6 linked regions of the Homo sapiens genome follow. The protein of the gene in region 2 purifies or fractionates together with the protein of the main gene of each other region. This does not show direct contact. Each region holds a gene or a part of one and is shown on either strand. Other genes may lie near its edges. The genes, in order: RGS10, ACP6, DHX36, LACTB2, RSU1 and ALDH1L1.

Region 1 (3,805 bases), on a different chromosome or scaffold from region 2:
CCCACCCAGGGCACAGGCCTCCTTCCCCATAATCTCATCTACCCTCCCTCATACCCAACCAGCTGACACTGGGAATGAAGGCAAAGAGGACACATCTACCCAGGAGAACAATCAGAGGCTTTCTCTGCAGGATGCTCGCCAACTATGGGACGCTCAGTACGATACACTGAATAATTGACAATCCCTCTGATGCACCTTGTGCTTTTATCATTACACATCTGCGTATCGTTTTACCACGTCCAAAATGCTAACATGTCAAAATGTGGGGAAAACATCCTCATAACTTATTCATGAAGAAAAAAATTCTATGCAATGAGGAACTCTAAGTGACATAAATTGTTATTTTTATTTTAAATATTGGTCCATTTGAACAGCTCCATTTAAAAATGGATTAACTCACCCTTTTAAAAATGATTAATATTTGATCAACACAAGATACCTAATCTGAAGCTTAAATCTTCCCCCAAAACTAATATGAATCAGGTTTCTTTAGGCAACTTCAGAATCTATTGGAAAGGCAGTTGTAACTTTATAAGGGAAAAAAATTATCAGAGTGGAGGAAATACCTGCGTCTTATCTTGCATTTTCTTAAAATCTTCACATGCTAGCCAAAACAAAACATTTTCTTCACTGAATTCCTTTTTTAAAAATTCCTGTGGATACAAAGAAAAAGAGTCACACAGTATTCTACTTTAAAAAAAAAATAAAACAAATGGCATTTCCCTTCAAAGACTGATTTGGCAAAATTCAACAGAGGAGCATGGTTCAGTTACTCTTCGAAAACCCCACTCTGAAAAACAAATGAGTATGTTTAATGTTAAAGCTATAATTTCATATGCATTTGACCTTAATGGTTTTGACATTGTAAAGAAGAGTACAAATGAAGCAGGAATGTACTCATATTTCTAAGCTGACAATAAATTACCAAAAAGTAAATTAAAGTGGAAGATATATTGGTTCCTTCCAGACAGTGTTTAAACAAAGTACATTCCTCTAAAATCAGGCTGTTTTTTAAACAAAAGAAAAGAAAGCACATTAAGTATGTCTAAAGACACCATGATACAAACTATTTTAAGTTGGAGGTATGTGTGTTTTCTTATGGCCGATCTTGGGCAGTCCATGGCACAGCCAGCTACTCTGCTGTGCAGAGACCTCCTGAGTTGCAAACACTGCTCACAGTGGCCTGGCGACCAGGAACTAGAAGCCTAGTACCACCTGCCACTCCCTCCCTGGGAGCTCCAACAGGCACCAACTGCATGAGGACTCATCCTATTCCTGACCCAAGACTTAAAGACAGAAGTAACCAGGACTCATTCTTGAAATTCACATATGGTCCTCCATCTGGCACCGGGGGCTTCTGCTGGTCAGAAAAGCTATTTCTAGATGGGATCAACAGTTCCCCATCCATCAGCCCTGCTCTCGGAGGTCCCTTCGCCAAGTTCTCATTGCCAGCCTCTCTTACTCTGTCAACAATGCATTCTGAGAATCCCCCAAGCACGAGAGAACAAGCCTTCACGTCAGAGAGACCCAGAGCTGGGAATTCCTCATACAGACTCCACCAATAGGCACGGTATCTTCTCTCTCCTCCCACCCTGTACCCCTCCCACCTCACTACACAAAAACCAGAAACAGGCTACCCATCTGTGACAGCGTTGCCAACACAGTCATGACAGATGAGAAAGTCTCACCCTCAAGCTGGGATAGACAGTACTGAACTCTCAAGCTGGCATAGAGAGTGCTACGCTGACAGACAATGTTGAACTGGCCTATTTCTCCCCTGTGTGCATCTGAACTTCTGCACACACTGCATCCATCCCGATTAACAATGAAAAAGACAAACCCTAAATCTTTTCACGCCTTCTGGGTCTTCCAGCAGATTCTCCAGGGATGCCGCCCATTTGGCTGTGCTCTTGAGGCTCTGGTGGCTGCTGCTGGAACTGCCATCGCTGTCGTGGATGTCTGCAAAGCAAAGTTCAGACTGCATATGTGGCCAACAGACACTGTCATTTTAAGAAATCTGCATGCAATGGTCAGCACTGCCGTCACCATCACGGCTGACATACACCGACTTATGCGTCAGGCTCTGTTCTAGGTGCTTAACATGATGGACTCATTCTTGTCACACAACCCTGTAAGGCAGGCACTACTATTTCCTCCATTTTACAGATGGGGGTAAACTGAGGCTCGGAGGGATGAAGGGACCTGCTGTTTCCCACCAAATCCTTCCCCTACTCTTGTGTCCACTGGCCAATTCAGAGGCAGCCCTCAAGTCACACTCAAACCCTCCTCCAAGAGAACCTTGATTCAACAGCAACTGCTTCCCCATGGCGCTTTGTGCACAGACTTAGAATTATGGTGCTGTGTTGTGACTATTTACATGACTGACTCCCACTAGTCTGAAGGCTCCTATGTGTCCTCATCTTGTATCTCCAGCACCTAGCTCATTATCTGGCACAGAGATTAAAAAACTCATTGCAGGACGGGACCCACGTGATGGCGCAAAATGTCAGAGGGTTGCCAGAATACCCAGGCATCAAGATAAATGTCATTTCAGGCAATAGCTCTTTTTGTTTGTTTGTTTGTTTTTGACAGAGTCACTCTGTTTCCCAGTCTGGAGTGCAGTAGCACAGTCTCGGCTCACTGCAACCTCTGCCTCCTAGATTCAAGCGATTCTCCTGCCTCAGCCTCCCAAGTAGCTGAGATTATAGGTGATTCCCACCGCACCCAGCTAATTTTTGTATTCTTAATAGAGACGGGGTTTTACCATGTTGGCCAGGCTGGTCTCGAACTCTTGACCTCAGGTGATCCACCCACCTCGGCCTCCCAAAGTGCTGGGATTACATGCATGAGCCACCGCGCCCAGTTCCTCAGGCAATACTTTTTCAAAAAATCAAAATTTATGCTAAAAAATCCATGATGAACAAAATACCCAAATTTTAAATAAAGACAGGATCGGTTATGCTGATTTTTCCTTTTGCTTCAGAGTCCAATATGGCTCAGCATCACACTGTTATTTTTCCTGACTTTATTTAAACTTCGGATATTTGTTCATTACGGATGTTTCTGCATTAATTTTGATCTTTTAAAACACTGCATTAAATATCATTTATAGGCTGGGTGCAGTGGCTCACACTTGTAATCCCAGCACTTTGGGAGGCCAAGGCAGGCAGATCACCAGAGGTCAGGAGTGAAACCTCATCTCTACTAAAAATATAAAAATTAGTTGGGTGTGGTGGCATGCACCTGTAATCCCAGCTCCTTGAGAGGCTGAGGCAGGAGAAACGCTTGAACCCAGGAAGCGGAGGTTGCAGTGAGCCAAGATCACACCACTGCACTCCAGCCTGGGCGACAGAGCAAGATTCCATCTAAAAATAATGATAATAAATAAATAAATAAATAAATAAATAAATATCATTATCCTGATGCCTGAGGTTTTTGGCAACCCTCTTACATTTTGGTGCACAGAGAAAATGGATGAAAACTCTTTGCATCTGCACATCTTCCACTGTACTCTCTGACTCACGACACTGAGAAGTCTCCTGGGAGGAACAGGGAATCTCCAAATAACACACTTTGGCCACTTGCCTGTAGGAGGAGGGAACAATTAAAGCATGCTTCATTCTATGGCATGTGATCCCTTCCTGGAGTCAAGGAAGAACCATGGAATGTCACTTCAGATGGGGCCAGGTTCAAAACCCAGTTTCTGGCCGGGCACGGTGGCTCACGCCTGTAATCCTAGCACTTTAGGGGGCTGAGGCGGGTGGATCACTTGAGGTCAGGAGTTCAAGACCAGCTTGGCCAACAT
Region 2 (3,805 bases):
ATATTAAAAAAATCTGAGATGCCCTTCATAAAGAAAGCTGGTTAATCTTTAAATCTGTTTTCCTTAAGCTTATTTAGCCATAGGATCTTTTTTTCTGTAATAAATACATAAAGAAGACTAACAATGGGAAAGGTTTCTCTAGATTTAAAAGTTGGACATCCAAAGTTATATAGGATCCTCCCCACTCTTGTGAAAATAAAATGACTGTGTACCCTAAAGGCAGAAATGCACCTTGCTTTTATGTGTAAAATAGGTTTAAGGTTAGAAGGCAAGAGTTCATATCATGTATTTGTATGGCGTATTTTTTAGACTTCATTTTGGGAAAATGAAGATCAAGTAGGAATTTATGAATTCCTTGCTTTGTATTTTATTCATCTTTTTTTTTTAAGTTAAAAAATACAGGCCAGGCATGGCGGCTCATGCCTATAATCCCAGCACTTTGGGAGGCTGAGGTGGGAGGATCACAAGGTCAGGAGTTCGAGACCAGCCTGGCCAATATGGAGAAATCCTGTCTCTACTAAAAATACAAAATTTAGCCGGGTGTGGTGGTGCATGTCTGTAGTCCCAGCCACTCAGGAGGCTGAGGCAGAATACTTGCTTGAACCTGGGAGGCAGGGGTTGCAGTGAGCCGAGATCACGCCACTGCATTCCAACCTGGGTGACAGGGCAAGACTCCATCTCAAAAAAAAAAACCAGTAAAACAGGCCGGGCGCGGTGGCTCACACCTGTAATCCCAGCAATTTGGGAGGCCGAGAAGGGTGGATCACGAGGTCAGGAGATTGAGACCATCCTGGCTAACACGGTGAAACCCCGTCTCTACTAAAAATACAAAAAAATTAGCCGGGCGTGGTGGCGGGCACCTGTAGTCCCAGCTACTCAGGAGGCTGAGACAGGAAAATGGCGTGAACCCAGGAGGTGGAGCTTGCAGTGAGCCGAGATCGTGCCACTGCACTCCAGCCTGGGCGACAGAGCGGGACTCCGTCTCAAAAAAACCAAAAAAACAACAAAAATGCTTTTCATTTTTGAGTGGATGGGGAGTCATCAGAAAGGGAAGAAACCCTTTCTTTTTTTTTTTTCCTGGCCTTCAGGTATCTAGTAATAGCTTTGGAAGAGCTTTAGAGACATAGCTTCTTGACCTGTTAACAGACATAGCTGTTCTTGAGCCTGTCTTCTCTTCCCCAGGAGAAGATGGGCTCCTGCAGGTTCCATGGAAGCTGATCAGCTGCCAGAATCAGTAGGTAAGAAGCATTTTTTTCTAAAACTACATGTGGCCCTTTCAGGCACACAACCTCCCAAGCTGCCCCATGCTGAAGAGATTTGCAAGGATGATCGAACAGAGAGCTGTGGACACATCCTTGTACATACTGCCCAAGGAAGACAGGTGAGGGGCTCTCACTGCTGGCATGAAGTCACGCTTGGTCAGACATCCAAGTGTATGGGGAAGAGGAGTTCATCAGGCCCACTCACACCTGACAGCTGATGTCTCCTCGTGTAAGGAGGCTGAACCCCATTCTGCCCACCTACCAGTAGGCCCTAGGTCCTCGCACTTCTACAGCTGGGACTGGTGGCCTAGTGCTTCTGTTCCCTGTTATGCAGAACCAGGAGCCACCACCCTCATGACTTTATCACTTGCCTTTTCCTTTTGCTTTAAGGTTTAAAGGATTTGGGTGGGGGGAGCTGAAGAAAGAATATTCATTTCTGTCTTTAGTCATCATGTTACAATTTGCAAACCATTTTCACATTCTCACTGTGAGGTGAGAGAGATACCTTTCTCCCTGGCTTTATAGATAAAGAAACTGAGGCTGGGAGATATTGCCTACCTGGTCTAGGCCCAGCTAGCAAGTGATGGAGCCAGAACTTGGACCCAGATCCACTGACTGCCTATTCTGTGTTTTCGCTATATTACTAGCAGTTAGGGTTCTGTTTCCTGACTACCAGAATGGAAAGTTTTTCTCTCACCAAATTTCAGAAGACACCTTTTTTTCTGATTTGTTGAGAGCATTCAACTTGCACTAAAAATAGGTGACTTGATAGAGGAGGGGAGGTAGGAAGTAGCCCTGGGAAAGATGAGTAGGGGGGAAAGGCATCTAACAGTTCAAGAATTTGCACGGTTGGGTGCCCAAGGATAAGAGCCCCTGACTGCATTCCTTCCACTCAGGGTCAGTGTGTCCACTTCTGTGCAAGCCTAGGGCATCTAGAAGGTTCCTGCCAAGCCACACAGCTTGCTGCCACTCCCTGGGACTTGCCAGCTTCCCTTTTCTGCTTGTGAAGGGGTGCCACCATACCTAAATTGTTACTTACTTCCCTCTCCTTTATCAACACACACACACATATTTAGTAAATATTTTAAGCTGTCAGGATCATGCAATTTCTGTTACAACTACTCATCTCTGCCCTTGTAACATGAAGCAACCAAAGACAATATGCAAACAAATAGACATGGCTGTGTGCCAGTAAAATTTGTTTACCAAAACTGGTCAGATTTGGCCTATGGTATAGTTTGCTTTATTCTGGTGTAAATCATTTTAAACAGGACCTTGTCTATTCCATTCCAATTAGCCCTGGTTTTGTAAAACTAACATTTCTTCAAGGACAAATGGTTACAACCTCACAAGGCCATCCAACTTGGCTTTGCCTGTATACATTCTTCTGAAAAGTATGTGTTGCATACAGTGTTGGTTGCCTGCTCTTCATCCATTGCTGCAACATTCCTTGACTTATAAAGATGGTCATTTACCCAATCACCACAAATAAGGATTTGTCTAAGCCAATCATGGCAACCTTGTTTTCATTTGTCAGTGGCTGGGTTCTGGGAATTCTAGGAGGGGTGTTTTTTTCTCTTTGATAAAAAGTGAGAAGCACAAAAACAAGGAGAAGACCAGTCTCTGAAGTCTCCATGGAAGCTGATCAGCTGCTAGGATGAGTAGATGAGAAACATTTCTTTCTTCTATAGTAAGTGGACTTTGTTCACTACTGTGAGTGAACATGCTTTAAGCTGCAGTAGTCACCTGTGGCCATGATGTGACAGGCCTGAGAATGAAAGTGGTGGAGCCACACAGCCAAGCCTGGGAGCACGACCACTGAACTTCTTCTGTAAAATAAATAAGACATAAATAAGAAATGTCTTTATGGCCCAAACTCCAAAAGAAGGAAGGCTGGCACATAGGAAACAAAATTAAGGATGTTCTTGTTCCTTCTGATTATTTTTCTAAGGGCCTTCTAGAATTCCTGGAAATTATTACCCCTTCTTCTTCCCAGCTTGTCAGCTTTGTTCTTTGATTCCCCAAGGCCTAGTTGGTCACGGCTTATCCAGGTTACCACTCTCCTGCTCCCTCAGCCCCTCCCATCTCAGTTGTGTTCACAACAGGTCTGTGTGCTGGTGCCTGTGTTGTTGGGAGTCTTCATTCACAGAGGACCCCAAGACCGGACTCGGTGCCATTTCTCTCCTTCTGGCCCGTTGCTGGCCCTTATGCATTACTTGCCTTTTTCTCAGCTCTGTCTGGACTCATGAGGTCCTGGGGGCAGAATCAGTCTGTGTCCCCTGAATGCTGAGTGCCCTCTAGGTGCTTAAATGTTGTTCACTTTTCACAGGGAAAGTCTTCAGATGGCAGTAGGCCCATTCCTCCACATCCTAGAGAGCAACCTGCTGAAAGCCATGGACTCTGCCACTGCCCCCGACAAGATCAGGTACCTGGCACAGCAACTCTGCTTTGTGCAGCTAAGGGCCGTGGGAACTTCTGGCTGTAGGGAGGGAACCCAAATCTTAGTGAGGCAAGAACCAGGCTGTCAGTGACCGAAGGTAGAT
Region 3 (3,805 bases), on a different chromosome or scaffold from region 2:
CTAAGTAGGTATCACTGCTCTACCCATGATGTGCACACATTTGAGCAAAGTACTCAATGTTAGTTCTAGAAGTCTCATTTAAAAATAACAATAATAACACCTACCCCAACTAATCTTACATGGTTTTCAGTATTAACTGGGATGTATTTTAAAGGACTTTTAAAAAGCTGATGACAAGAACATTTATTAAACATAAATATATTACATTGTAATTCCCTCCCTTTCCCCCTCCTTCCTTCACAAGTATAAGCAGGAAAGACAGTGAGGATTAATTTTAAAAGAATGTGCTTTTGCAGCTGGTCCAATCTAGCTTCAGCTTGGGAAACCTACTTAACTGCTCTGAGGCTGCTTTCTCATCTGTAAAAATGTGAATGATAATAGCAACTACCTCATAAAGTGTTATAAAGACTAAGGAAGACAAAGTGGCAAATATACTACCTGGAACATTGAAGGTGTTCCATAAGTGGTCACTAGCAGTATTAGCAGCAAACTGCCACCCTAACCTGTGATAAAAGCCACAGAAAAACAACAGAAAGAAGTTTATAAAATTATGCAAATCTGTGGTTTGACTTCAATGATGCCATCTTAATTGTGTGGTGGTAGCAACAAGAAGCTACCTGTCCTCACTATGAGAGATGATGCCACCATTTAAAAATAGACCCAATTGTCTAATCCATGAAACTGGAGGGTAGAATAATATTAAAATAAAATTAACAGCTAAACATTCATTTTGACTACTCTTTACCTAGTACCATATTAATTTTTTTAATTGTTTTTCTAGTACCTTTTCTAATGTAATAACTATACATTTTACTCACCAAAATATTCTGAAAACTTTTCTGCATTCAATGTTGCACTCATCAATATTACTTTCAAGTCAGATCGAAAATTGAGAAGGTCTTTAACAACAGTCATTAAAACATCTGACTGCAGATTTCTTTCATGGATTTCATCAAGTACGATATGACTAACACTGGACAAATACCTAAGGCAGAAGTGTGAAGTACAAAATTTTAAAACCATTTTTCTTTAACAACTAGTAAAATCCAATTTAATAATTACATCTTTTGATAACACTTATATTTCCTTAATTGAAACATACTCACGGGTCTGACTGGAGCCACTGAAGGATGATTCCTGTTGTACAGTATAAGATAGAACCCTGTTTCCTTGGCAACCGACTGTGAATGAAAGACATGAATTAATAAGCCTTGGTTTTCTCTTCTAATAATTAACTACCACAAAGGTTTATATCTTCAATTTTAGAAATGCTTTCAGTTTTAATGAAAATCTTCACACTTAATTTTTTACTTATAAGAACACCTACCACAATGGGGTAATGGGAAATACTTCAAGTTCATTATACATTATCTTTGTTGTCATTGATATAATGTTAATTTCTTTTAAAAGATACGACCATTCACATTCAGACAACAACTGAATTACTTATGGGGCCTAAATATTTGGTTCGTAATTGGAAAGCTCATTTGAAAAGGCAAATGTGTCAGGCATGGTGGCTCAGGCTTGTAATCCCAACACTTTGAGGCCAAGATGGGAGGGTTGCTTGAGCCCAGGAGCTCAAGACCAGCCTGGGCAACACAGCGAGATCCAGGCTCGAAAAGTAAAAAAATTAGCCAGTTGTGGTGGTGTCCGCCGGTAGGCCCAGCTACTTGAGAGGCTGAGGTGGGAGGACTGCTTGAGCACAGGAGTCTTCGGCTGCAGTGAGTTGACTGCACCACTGCACTTCAGCCAGAGCAACAGAGTGAGAACCTATCTCTAAAAAACATTAAGTAAATTAAAACATAAAAAGGCAAATGGAGTCCTAAGCTCCAGAAAAGGACCAACTATGTACTGCACAGTGGAGTTGGATAGGGGGTTAAGATATCAAAATCAATAAAAAGTCAGTCGGAAGTATATGGAGGTGGTACTGAAAGGTCTACACAATCTTTTCAGAGAGAGTAATGGTCTACTAATCTATGTCCAGGAAAAATGTTTATTTTTCTAATCATTCCAAATATAAAAGCATCATTTAAAAAAGGCAATACAAGTCTGATGTGGGGTTAAAAGATAAATTTGTGGCAGCAAGTCATCTACGCTGCAGTTACTTTAAATGGTAATTGTAATAGTAATAACCATCATAAAAATGGGGAAAATATCCTTTCTTTTGAATCTCCAGCTTCAAAGTTTCACTAAAATCTGCCTGTATATAAGAAGTGAACATTTCTTACCTCTGGAGACGAATTTGATATCCAGTACTATTACCACTGCCACAAGATTCTGCCCTTTCTGCAGCTACTCTTTCCGCAACCTTTAATTCAAATAAAACATAAAGAGAATATAATTTCCTTTAGAACAAATATCCTGAATGTCCATGAAAATCTAGGACTGTTGAAAAATTGTTCTTCAGATTTCTAAATGAGTTAAAAAAATAGATATTAAAATCTGAGGTATCTAAAACAGTGTGTGCCTCTCTTAAGAGCTGTTTATTTTTCATTTCCTCTTATAAAGTCTTTTAAGGCCAAGTTCTCTCATCACTAGTTTCAAAGTGCCTTTCTATAGCATCCTCTCATTAATTTATACTTTTCTGGTCTTTTCTAAGAGTTGTAAATCAAGATCTAAACTTGTAGAAGTTATGTGTAATTTGAAAGTAATTACATATTGATACTCTTCCCTTGTGTTTTTGTTTGTGGTAGGGACTGGTGTTGAATTTCTAGTTCTTGGTCATGTTTTGAAAGTTATGACTGCCAAAAATAAGATTTGGAAAGATGAAATGTTATAATCTAATACTGATTTGTACAACTAAAAGTAACCAACAGTTATTCTGTGACAGAACAGTGATAATAAGGTATTAGAAATAGAAAATGGCATAATTTGTAAGAAATAATACTTTACAAGTAAAACTTTCCAATAAGTATATCTAGTATACACTGACAGACCACATTAACCTGTCTACTCAAATTCCAACAGATGGTGGAAAAAAGAAGAGAAAAATTACCTACTTAGCATTTCTTCCTACTATCAGCATATACAGTAACTGCTATATATTAGTGAAAATATTTAAGTCTAGCTACAAAAGTGTGTTATGACAAAAGTGGTTTATTTTTCACCATTCTGTAATTTTATGCAATTTCCTGGAATATAGTCCCCATAAAAGGGTGAAGACTACCTGAAACTGAAACTACTAGAAGAAAACCTAGGGAAAAACTCCTTTGGACATTGGTCTAGGCAAAGAATTTATGACTAAGACCTCAAAAGCACAGGCGACAAAAATAAAAATAGACAAATGGGAATTAACTAAGAAGTTTCTACACAACAAAAGAAATAATCAACAGAGTAAACAGATAATTTCCAGAACGGAAGAAAATATGTGCAAACTATTCATCCAGCAGTGGACAAATACCCAGTATATACAAGAAACTCAAACAACAACAATAAAAGACAAATCATCCCCTTAAAAGGAGGGCAAAAGACAAGAACAGACATTTTTCAAAAGAAGATATACAAATGACTAACAGGTATATGAAAAATGCACAACATCACTAATCATCAGAGAAATGCAAATTAAAACCACAATGAGATATCATCTTACCCCAGTCAAAATGGCTACTATTAAAGAGTCAAAAAATAATAGATCTTGGCCAGGACATGGATAAAAGAGAACTCTTACATACTGTTGGTAGGAATGCAAATTAGCACAGCCTCTATAGAAAACAGTATGGAGATTGCTCAAAGAACTAAAAATAGAGCTATCATTTGATCCAGCAATCCCACTGCTGGGTTTCTACCCAAAGGAAAAGAAATCAAT
Region 4 (3,805 bases), on a different chromosome or scaffold from region 2:
CCCTGTCTCAGGGCCTTCACGCATGCTTTCCTCTTTCTTCCACTCATTCCTCCCTTCTTTACCCAGCTAATCTCATTCATCCTTTAGAGCACAGTTTAAATACCATTTCCTCATGGAAGTCTTCCCTGACCCATCAGACTGTATTAGGGACACTCCATACTTTTCATGGTCCTTATCTCAATGATAATGAAATGATTTTTTTGTGCAAGAAGCTTAGTGTCTTTCCACACCTTCATACCCCACTATAACATCAGTTCAGTGAAAGCATATTCATGGCTATATCCCCAGCACCTAGCACAGAGCCTTGTACACAGTTCAGGTAGAACAGTAAACAGTTGCTGAATGAATGAGCATTCTGTACATTTTCTCTTAATTTTCACTATTATGACTCCAGAACTGCTGGATAACTACAGTTTTAGCTGGTCTTCCTTCCTCATCTGATCAGCCCATGGAAGCCAAATGAATTTCACTAAAACACTGCTAGACCTAACTGTGATGCTTAGTACATAGGTACTCAATAAGCATTTGAATCAACAAATGACAGCCAAATTGTCCAGTGTTTTTACTTTCCTCCTCTGCTCAAGAACCTTTAAAAACTGCAATTTTAACCTTTCCTATCAAAATTGTACATACTTTGTGGGCAGACAGTGTGGCTGATAATAGAAAAAGGTAGTCAAGTGGAATAGAATTAAAACTCTGGACTCTGGTTACCTCGATTAGAATCCTGGTGCCATTTACTAGCCATATGACTTTGGACAAGACAGTTCTAAGCTTCAGATTCCTGATACAACCCAATGAAGGTTGTGTAGTACCTACCTCATTGGATTTTATAAGGGCTCAGTGAAATTTAAGTGAAAAAACGTATATGAAAAGCACTTAACAAGTTCTAGCACGTGGAAAACATACCATGTTAGCCATTATGTTTATCACTTCTGCTTTCCTCATAACATCTAGATAACACTGTGCTCATAGTAGGTGTTCAGAAAATATCTAATGATTTTATAAGAGTGACAGCAAATAGAGACCAGTTAATAGCTATCTTAATATTGACATGAAATACCTATAACAAGGAATTTGATTCTACTAATTTTCCATCAATTAAAAATTTTTTTCTCCATTCATGTAGCAAACAGTTATTGTGTGCCTACTATGTGCCAGGCACTTTGCTCTAGTGAATAAATCGTTCATAGACCTATACAGATTCATCCATACTCTTCCCTTGAGCCCTTCATTAGCATAATTTGCATTTGCAAAATGACCTCCTGAGATAGGGATATTATTATCTGTGGCCAAGAAGAACAAAGTCAACTAGCCCATGTAGAGATGATACTATCCAATCATCTATTATAACTATTTACAGACATCACTGATAGAGTAACTGTTTGCTAAGGGAGAAACTGATAACATTTTTTTCAATTTCAAAACTGATAACAGTTTTTTCAAATGTATAGCTGAAGTTTTATTTTTGCCACATAATGATTCTAAGCACTTAACCTAAGCAATCCCCTTCTGCTAGAGAGGCAGTGTTTTGAATGGAGAAGTCACTGGACCTTGTATCTGAACATCTAGTGCTTCCTAGCACTGCCTCTTGCTGGTTATATGACCTGGAGCAAATCACTTAGCCTTTCTGAAGATAAGTTTTCTATAAAATAAATAATTAATAAAGTAATAATACCTCCCTAGAGTTGATATGAGGATCAAAAGAAATAGTAAATATGAAAGCCCCAAATGGTTTAAATTGCTATGTCAATGTCATATGTTATCAGTGTGACTTTTTTTTTCCCTCAAAGCTTGGTGCAAACTCATGTTTTAGGTTTTATAGTATCTAGACACCCCTCCTTTGTTCTGAATAGATTGTATTAATTCCAGAACTTTTTTCTGTTTTCTTTCTTTTGAGAGCCCTTCTTTTATCAATTCCAATTTTGTTAAACCAAGACAGGACCATTAAGAGACCTAAAACTGGAGCCCCAGAAACATGTTCTCCACTACCACAGTCGTATGGTCACTCACACTTTCACCTGCAAACAACCAGCACAGGCATTCTAAAAGATCTGTTTTCTTTGCTACTAGATTTTATCAAATTCATGTATCAACCCTGTTAATTTTGTCATGACTTTTGATCAGTGTGATGTGATCTGGTCATTAAATTACAGAAATTTATATTCATTTTTAGATTAGGAGATATTTCAAAACAGAGTTTCTTGGGAGGACGGGAAGGCAAGGATTAAGAAATAATTTTAAAAGTGGTGGGGCCTTGATGGATTGAAAAAATTTGAGCCTTACCTGAAGCATGGAAGTATTCTTTTTGTGAGGACCAGAAGACCCACAAAAATAGTCCCAGTGACTCTACGTTAGGGGCAGTGAGAATTTGTGGTAAATAACTGCAAATGCATGGAGGCAGCCAAAATCTAGGATGGGTGGGCTAGAGAGTATTATTGGAGGTATCATAGTATTATAGTCTTGTGTATTTTAATTTAGCATAACTAAATATGCACAATGCTAAGTGCAGTACAATGTATTATGGATATAGAAATAAATCCATAAATTCCTTGAACCAAACAGACAAGCTTTCTGCCCTGAAGGGACTCAAATTTGTACGGTGGTGTTGGTTGTGGAAATAGGCAATAAAAAAATAAATATGTAAATACATAATATATTACATGGTAATAATTGCTATGGAAAAAAAGCAAGATAAGATGGCTAGGAATAGCATCAGAACTCACTCTGACCCGAGTCAAACTCATCTCAAATTTGCTCCCTCCAGGGTTTACCTTCTTGATTAATGGCACACCAATCCTCCCACCTAGAAACCTCAGAGTCGCCAACTGTTTCCCTCCTTCCACATCTCGTTGTTTAACAAATATCCTGGTGGTTGGTTGATTGTACCTTCTAAATGTTCTTAAAGCCATCTCTTCCTTACATTTCCACTACCAACAGAACCCTATAATAAATGCCCTCTTGGTCCAGTGTAACCATCTGGTCTCCTGTCTCCGGATAGGACAGTTCAACACTGTGTTTCTGAAGGACATCTACTGTGCTACAGAACATAGGGTGCAGATAGAAGCCAATGGGCTATGAGGCCATTACCCTCCTCCCTTATGAGAGGCCAGTTTGTTTTTGTTGGCTCTGGGTCTCAGGGAGTAGGGTTAGGGAAACAAACCAATAAAAAATAACCATCCAGTTACTCACTGTTTAATTTTAATGCTTTGCAAAATGCTTTCTATGGTATGTTACTTTTATTGTTTATTTCCAGTCATATGCAGTTCCCCTTCTCACCAACAGTTGAATGTAAGCAGGGTTGTTGTGTCCTGCTTACTGCAAGAAACAAATTTGTAGCACATATTAGGTAATCCATAAACAGTTATTGATCAATTAATGAATAACTCAGACTTTTCATCAAGGCTAATCTGTCAGCCAGCCTGAATTATTGAGGTGTTACTGTGAAACAGTATGAGTGAAGAAGTTTGTGAATTGGATCTTGAGCTGGGCATGGTGGCTCAACGCCTGTAATCCCAGCACTTTGGGAGGCTGAGGTGGGAGGATTGCTTGACCCCAGGAGTTAAGAGACCAGCCTGGGCAATATGACGAAACACCATCTCTACAAAAAATACAAAAATGAGCCGGGCATGGTGGCACATACCTGTAGTCCCAGCTACTCAGGAAGTAGATGTGGGAGAATCGCTTGTGCCCAGGAGGTCAAGGCTGCAATGAGCTGAGATCGCAACACTGCACTCCAGCCTGGGTGACAGAGCAAGACCCTGTCTCAAAAAAAAAAGAATTGGATCTTGAGGAACATGTCACCCCC
Region 5 (3,805 bases), on a different chromosome or scaffold from region 2:
ATGGTGAAACCCCATTTCTACTCAAAATACAAAAATTAGCCGAGTGTGGTGGTGGGTGCCTGTAATCCCAGCTACTTGGGAGGCTGAGGCAGGAGAATCGCTTGAACCTGAGAGGTGGAGGTTGCAGTGAGTTGAGATAGATGGCGCCACTGCACTCCAGCCTGGGTGACATAGTGAAACTGTGTTTCAAACAAAAAAAAAAAAAAAAAAAAAAAAAAGAAGCAGCAGCTTCAGTAAGCACCGGAGAGCCATTGCCTCCTTTCCACGGGGACCAGCTGGTTCCATAACAGCTGCTTTTAGGGGCATCTACATGATGCTCTGCTGGGAGGTCACAAGGTACATGAGCTATGCTAGGGCAGGGGCCTGCTGTGAGTTCTCTTCTGTCCTCCTTGGGAAGGAGAAGAAGGTTGGTTACTTTGTGTATTTCAGTTTTTTTGTCCTTCTGTCATTCTCCTGTAGCAGCTGTCGTCACCCCTTTGTCAAACATACTAGCCCAAAATATGGACTGTTAGCTGATAAGACAATAAGTCAAACTCTTAATCATTAAAAAAAAAAAAAAAACTGCACAAAAATGCCGCTATTGTGTTTCACCAGATTAACACAAACTGATTTTCAAAATTAAGGGCCTCCTTTATATGAATAGATCTGTATTATATTAAGTATATCCTCATACAATTAGAACCCAACTCAACTCTTTGTGTGAAGCAGCCATTTCATAATTAGGGGATTTTTAGTATCCTATCTGAAAAATATTATGCGAATTAGCAGGTATTTGGCTACTTTTTAAAAACGTTTTACATGTGGCAGCCTTCAGGGGAGGCAGTTTATTCATGATACTCATAGTTTTTTTAAAAAAGCAAATTTCACATTCATTGCCTTAGTTTTTGATCTTCTAGTCTAAAACTTATTATAGTTCCTAATTTTCACTTCTTTGTCTCTGTTGTTTAAGCCGCATACTTCCCCTTTATTAAAAAGAATCCTTACTTATATATTTATCAGTGTCTGTGTGTTGCGGATGTGTATTTGTCTATCTTTAAACTACCATGAAAACATACTTTTGGTTTTGGCACTTAAAACGCCTATGAACCTCCTCCTCCTTCCCCCACCCCAACCGCTTTTTTCTAACCAGTTAACCCATTACCTAAATGAGAGGAATAAAGAACTAAAAAACTTACCGGAATGTTTTCTTTTCATTCATGTCTATGATCGGCGTTCACAGTGACCTTCCTCAGAGCACGTCCTCAAGTTCTTCTGAGTCTAGGGCAGAGAGGATGGATGATCTGATTTATAGGCTCTAATGGACTCCAAGAGGAGACATGGATACTTGAAAGAAAACAATGAATTCAGTGTGTCAACAGAATTAAAATACTTGGAGATGACTTAGCTTCATGAAGATGGGAACTTGTTCCATTAAGCAGGAGGGGTGTGGCTGGTAGGATGGTGAGGTATAGTTCTTCAGAGATTGCTCTTTGGAGTAACATTCTGGGCATTAATCACGGCCCCTTCATCATGTCTCAGGTGGAAGCTGCTGTCTCTTCATCTTTCGTGCCTTCCACAGGGGAACTTGTTGGCTGATGTCACTGAGTTGCCGGTTAACATGAAATTATGAGCTTGGTTGGGTCGTTGAAGCTTACATCCTACATGCTCCACTGTGTTTTTAAACTGTCGCTGAGTTATACAATTACCTGTTAACTCTTTATTTGATGGTGGTTGTCTCTTCGACCTCTTTTATTTCTTTGAAGCAGAATTATGATGGAATACTCATCACTTAAGTTTCCAGAAGGTAGATTTTTTTCCCCCAGGAGAGGCAGTCAAGTTGAAGTCAGCACCCTTGACAAGATTCTTTGTGAAAGGGGGTAACTCACACTTTGCACATTTCCATCAAGGAACGTGGATACCAACTGCAAGCCATTTTAAAAGCTGACAAGTTAACTCTTGTCAACAAGTTAACAAAAGAGGTTTGACAAATGTTAGGCTGGAAATGCTTCCCTTGAAAGAGGTATTTGGCAAACAGGCGTCATCATGAAAACTGCAATTTGCCAAGCATGGCAGTCCTAAAGCCTCATTTCCAGCATGGCATCACTCACAGGATGCTTCCTCGTCATTCTGCCTGTCTTTTTCACCTTTCTTTTCTCTCTCCGGAAAAGTTCCCCACTCATTTGTGTTTTGTGTGTTCCGTTTTTTTAACCTTAAATGAAAGACCAGCCATACTATTATTCATATTAGTTAACAAAAACATTTTAACAAAGCAGTCTTTGGTGAATGGTGGGAAACCATGAGATAAAAGCTGAGAATTCCTCTTTATTAGAAATCTAGCCAAATAAATCATCCTGTTTGATTTATAAGGAAACATTCTTTTGGCTGTTGGTTATTGTTTTTCACATTGTTTTACTTGTGGAATTAAAGCTAATTAATGTTTTATTTTTCTTCTGCATGCTGTGCAAACCTGTTACAAGCTGTAATGGACGTACATGGGCTTTATTAAACAACTACTATATCCTCTAGTGACTGCTGAGTCAGTGGCCTAGAAATTCTTTAAATAACTTCACTGATACAACCAGTCCACCACAAGGCTAGGGCATTTCAAACCTAATAGGTGAGCCCATTCATTTTAAAACAGCCCTTCACTGTAGGAAATTATCTCTAAGAAAAACTTAATAAACATCTGATGAAGTATAAATGGGTGCACAGAGCTAGCAGGTGATTTTATAAATATCTTCACAAAGATGGAGGAGAGGGTTAAATTTCCAGGATCTTTCTAGTGGTTAGTAAATTGAACATAGTGACAATCAGTATGTAGAACAATGTAGACTCTTCTTTTTCATTGCTGTATCTGAAAATAGCTCAAATTAAGCCACAGAAAAACAATTTCTGTGTAGTAGACATGAAAATGAAGAACTGTTTTTCTTTAAAGCTTTTTTTTTTTTTCCTTAGGGACACAGTATCACTTTGTCACCCAGGCTGCAGTGCAGGGGCACCATGATAGCTCACTGCAGCCTTGATCTCCAGGGCTCAAGCAATCCCCCTGCCTCAGCTTCCCTAGTACCTGGGACTACAGGCACACACCACAACGCCTGGCTAGTTTTCTATTTTATTTTTTTGTGGAGACTGGGGGTCTTGCTATGTTGCCCAAGCTACTCTCAAACCCCTGGCCTCAAGAGATTTTCCTGCCTCAGCCTTTCAAAGCGCTGAGATTACAGGCACGCACCACGGCACCTGGCTTTTAACATAAAGGTAGTTTTTACATTTTACAAGTTGACTATGTATTCTCTTCCTGGTGATATATATTTTCTTCATAAATGGTACATATTTGTATTATTTTTTCTTTTTTTGAGACGGAGTCTCGCTCTGTCGCCGAAGCTGGACTGCAGTGGCGTGATCTGGGCTCACTGCAAGCTCCGCCTTCCGGGTTCACGCCATTCTCCTGCCTCAGCCTCCCGAGTGGCTGGGACTGCAGGCGCTCGCTACCACATCTGGCTGATTTTTTGTATTTTTTTTAGTAGAGACAGGGTTTCGCCTTGTTGGCCAGGATGGTCTTGATCTCCTGACCTCGTGACCCGTCCGCCTCGGCCTCCCAAAGTGCTGGGATTACAGGCCTGAGCCACCACTACTGGCCTATATTTTCTTTTTTAAAGTTGAAAATGCATTATCACATTTTATCCATAATATGTGATTCAAAGTTTTGGCATCTGTGGACCTATTTGCAAGAAAATATGTTGCATTTAACCAGTATTGCTAAAAAGTATCAGAGAAAAGGGAAACCCATATAATATATTTGGGGTATATTGTGTCACATCTCTTATTT
Region 6 (2,563 bases), on a different chromosome or scaffold from region 2:
CCTCTCTGCAGCTCCACGACCAAAGCTGGTTCCCCCAAGGACCTGCTGAACCCTCAGCCAGAAACACGGGCCCCTGGGTCTTCATGGCCAACTCCTCCCTGCTATGCAGGTCTGGGTAGCACAGGTGCCACCACACCAGAGAGGCCCCCAGTGCCTCCTGGCTGGAGTGTCTCCTCCAGGCCCCTCTTCTTGCCTTCTTCCCAGCACGACCCCCCTCTGCAAGCATCTTGCTCACGGACTTGTCACAAGTTCCCTCCCAGTAAGAAGCGAACCCTGACAGCCATCATGTTCAAGGCTACGTCCCTGCATCTGAGATAGGACCTGGCCCTAAGTGGTTTTGAACAGATGTTTGTTGAATGAATAAATGAAAGCAACCCCACAGGCAGGAGTAGGTTACCTAGATCTTTGCCAAATCCAGACTGTTTGAATCCTCCGAAGGGAGCGGCCACGTCGGTCTTGTTGTACGTGTTGACAAACACAGTGCCTGCCTGGAGCTTGTCACTGACATACAGGGCCTTGTTGATGTCCCTGGTGAAGACACCAGAAGCCAGGCCAAATTCCGTGGCATTGGCCCGAGACAGCACGGCATCCAAGTCCCTGGAGAGAAAGTCCAGGAAGAACTCCCTGAGGGAGGTGCAGAGGAGAGCCTGGCCCACTCCACACCCCGGCCCACTCCACACCCCAGCTGCATAAGACCTTCCGAGGAGAAAATGTGCCGGGCTGCAGCGCCGGGGGCAAGATTGGGTTGGGTTGGGCTGCGAGCGAGGAGGAAGGGCAGAGGCCCATGGGCAGGTGGCCACCACAGGGGCTCCTGGATCATCGGGTGAGCCCTTTATTCCACAGACTGGGAGCAGGGGCCCAGAGAGGGGCCGCTGGGTCCTCACATGCAGAAGGACCCACATGTGCCCGCCGCAGGTTGGGCATTCACCAGACATCAGCGATTTGGAGACTTACTACAACCATATTTATTGGCTAGGTGGCAGTGAAGTCTCTTATTCTAATACCACTGACATACGATGATAATTTCTGGGGTTTTTTTGGTAGTTGGATAGTAAAATGTGAGGACGAGGCACGATTTTGCAATTTGCTCCAAGGTGCTACGGAGACAAGGGGCAGGCCTGAGAAGTGACAGCATGGGCCTCAGTGGCCCCACTGTGAGTGGAGTACAGTTTTTCCCTTCCAGCCCAGCCTGGTCTGGGTGACTTGCTTCATCAACAGGCCGTGGTGGAAGGGATGCTCTGGGATTCTAAAGAGCTAGATTATAAAGAGCCTTTTGGCTTCCACCTGGCCTCCGAAGGGAACCAGGTGCCTCGGCAACCCCGAGGCTGCCACGCGGAGGAAGCCTCCCGCAAGACCCCCAGCAGCATCAGGATAGCCACTCTGTCACCCCAGCTGAGGCCAGACACTGCATGGAGCAGAGATGGGTTTGCCTCATTGAACCTAGACCGTGACTAAAATAAATCTCTGATTATTCCAAGCCACTCAGTGTGGGGGGTGGTTTAATGCATGGTAACAGACCTTAGAACAGAGCCCAGCGGGCTGTGAGAAACATGCTGGAGCATGTGACAAGTGACAAGGACAGGGAAGGGAGCTGCCTTTGCTCACAGGGGGGACTCAAAGCCCCAGGTCACTGGGCTCTCTTCTCAGGGGTGTGGAGACTCAGCAGGCGGCACAAGCGGGGTGTCCACGGCTTGCGCCCTGCCTGAGTTCTCCTCCTGACTGCCCGTAGACTACCTCCCAAAGCCCACATGAAGACCCCAGTAACACGTGGGAGAGAGTCAGGGCCCTTGAGACATCAGCAGGATTCCCTACCCATCAGCAAACCGAGAGATGATCATGACAGGCCCGAAGGACTCCTCCTTGGCTATGAACATGTGGTCTTCCACGTCTGTGAAAACAGTTGGCTCAAAGAAGAACCCTGCAAGAGAGATAAAAGCCCGTTGCACATGGGAGACACGGTGCCCGATGGTCCAGCCTCTCCGTCAGCAGGGCCTGGGCCACACCAGCCACCTGCGGATGACCCGACATAAGCACCGGGTCACGGCACCCGTGTGATGGGTGTCACCACGCTGCAGATGGCTCTCCCACCTGGCTTGTTCTTTGATGTGGGTCTCACCGTGCTTTTAACGGAGTGCTGTTGAGGGAAATGGGGCCGCCGGTTGGCAGGTGACAGAGCTGAGACCTGATCCCAAGTCCATCCAATCCTAGTGCCAGAACCCATGGCCGAAGCAAAGACTTGAGCTTTTCTGGTGACAGCTAATCTAAAACCACCTAGATTCTTTGGCAGGTGAAACCTCCCAGGCAGCTCTGCCACTGACCCTGGTGGCTACAACCCGTGGAGTAGGAGGAGGTGAGAGGGGAGGAGCTCTGGGCACTGGGACCTCCTGGGGCTTCCTCCCTCTGCCCTCCCAGGGTCCCTACCAAGGCCCAGCTCCATGCTCTCCAGTCAAGAAGGGACCACCTACTCCCAACCCTGGATGCAGCCCCTACAGGCCCTGGTTGCCAGGGCAGAAGCACTTCTGACAACTGAAATGCTTCCTCTCTGTTTTCTCTAGAGACAGAG

What was found.
Region 1: the proteins of ACP6 (region 2) and RGS10 purify together in Homo sapiens (affinity purification with mass spectrometry, with the first as the bait; one large-scale study listed by BioGRID). This does not show direct contact.
Region 3: the proteins of ACP6 (region 2) and DHX36 purify together in Homo sapiens (affinity purification with mass spectrometry, with the first as the bait; one large-scale study listed by BioGRID). This does not show direct contact.
Region 4: the proteins of ACP6 (region 2) and LACTB2 purify together in Homo sapiens (co-immunoprecipitation; one large-scale study listed by IntAct). This does not show direct contact.
Region 5: the proteins of ACP6 (region 2) and RSU1 purify together in Homo sapiens (affinity purification with mass spectrometry, with the first as the bait; one large-scale study listed by BioGRID). This does not show direct contact.
Region 6: the proteins of ACP6 (region 2) and ALDH1L1 purify together in Homo sapiens (co-immunoprecipitation; one large-scale study listed by IntAct). This does not show direct contact.

Annotation. Positions count from the first base shown.
Region 1 is NC_000010.11:119,525,466-119,529,270, forward strand, and holds part of RGS10 (regulator of G-protein signaling 10), read right to left. Parts: intron 1,960-3,805; coding exon 1,841-1,959; intron 654-1,840; coding exon 567-653; intron 1-566. UniProt on the Homo sapiens protein: Regulates G protein-coupled receptor signaling cascades, including signaling downstream of the muscarinic acetylcholine receptor CHRM2.
Region 2 is NC_000001.11:147,650,025-147,653,829, reverse strand, and holds part of ACP6 (lysophosphatidic acid phosphatase type 6), read left to right. Parts: intron 1-1,182; exon of another isoform or gene 1,183-1,238; intron 1,239-1,280; coding exon 1,281-1,381; intron 1,382-3,591; coding exon 3,592-3,687; intron 3,688-3,805. UniProt on the Homo sapiens protein: Hydrolyzes lysophosphatidic acid (LPA) containing a medium length fatty acid chain to the corresponding monoacylglycerol.
Region 3 is NC_000003.12:154,303,988-154,307,792, forward strand, and holds part of DHX36 (ATP-dependent DNA/RNA helicase DHX36), read right to left. Parts: intron 2,309-3,805; coding exon 2,229-2,308; intron 1,182-2,228; coding exon 1,107-1,181; intron 986-1,106; coding exon 819-985; intron 1-818.
Region 4 is NC_000008.11:70,662,666-70,666,470, reverse strand, and holds part of LACTB2 (endoribonuclease LACTB2), read left to right. Parts: intron 1-3,191; exon of another isoform or gene 3,192-3,805.
Region 5 is NC_000010.11:16,688,136-16,691,940, reverse strand, and holds part of RSU1 (ras suppressor protein 1), read left to right. Parts: intron 1-3,805. UniProt on the Homo sapiens protein: Potentially plays a role in the Ras signal transduction pathway. Capable of suppressing v-Ras transformation in vitro.
Region 6 is NC_000003.12:126,105,329-126,107,891, forward strand, and holds part of ALDH1L1 (cytosolic 10-formyltetrahydrofolate dehydrogenase), read right to left. Parts: exon of another isoform or gene 1,919-2,563; coding exon 1,813-1,918; exon of another isoform or gene 598-1,812; coding exon 398-597; exon of another isoform or gene 205-397; intron 1-204. UniProt on the Homo sapiens protein: Cytosolic 10-formyltetrahydrofolate dehydrogenase that catalyzes the NADP(+)-dependent conversion of 10-formyltetrahydrofolate to tetrahydrofolate and carbon dioxide.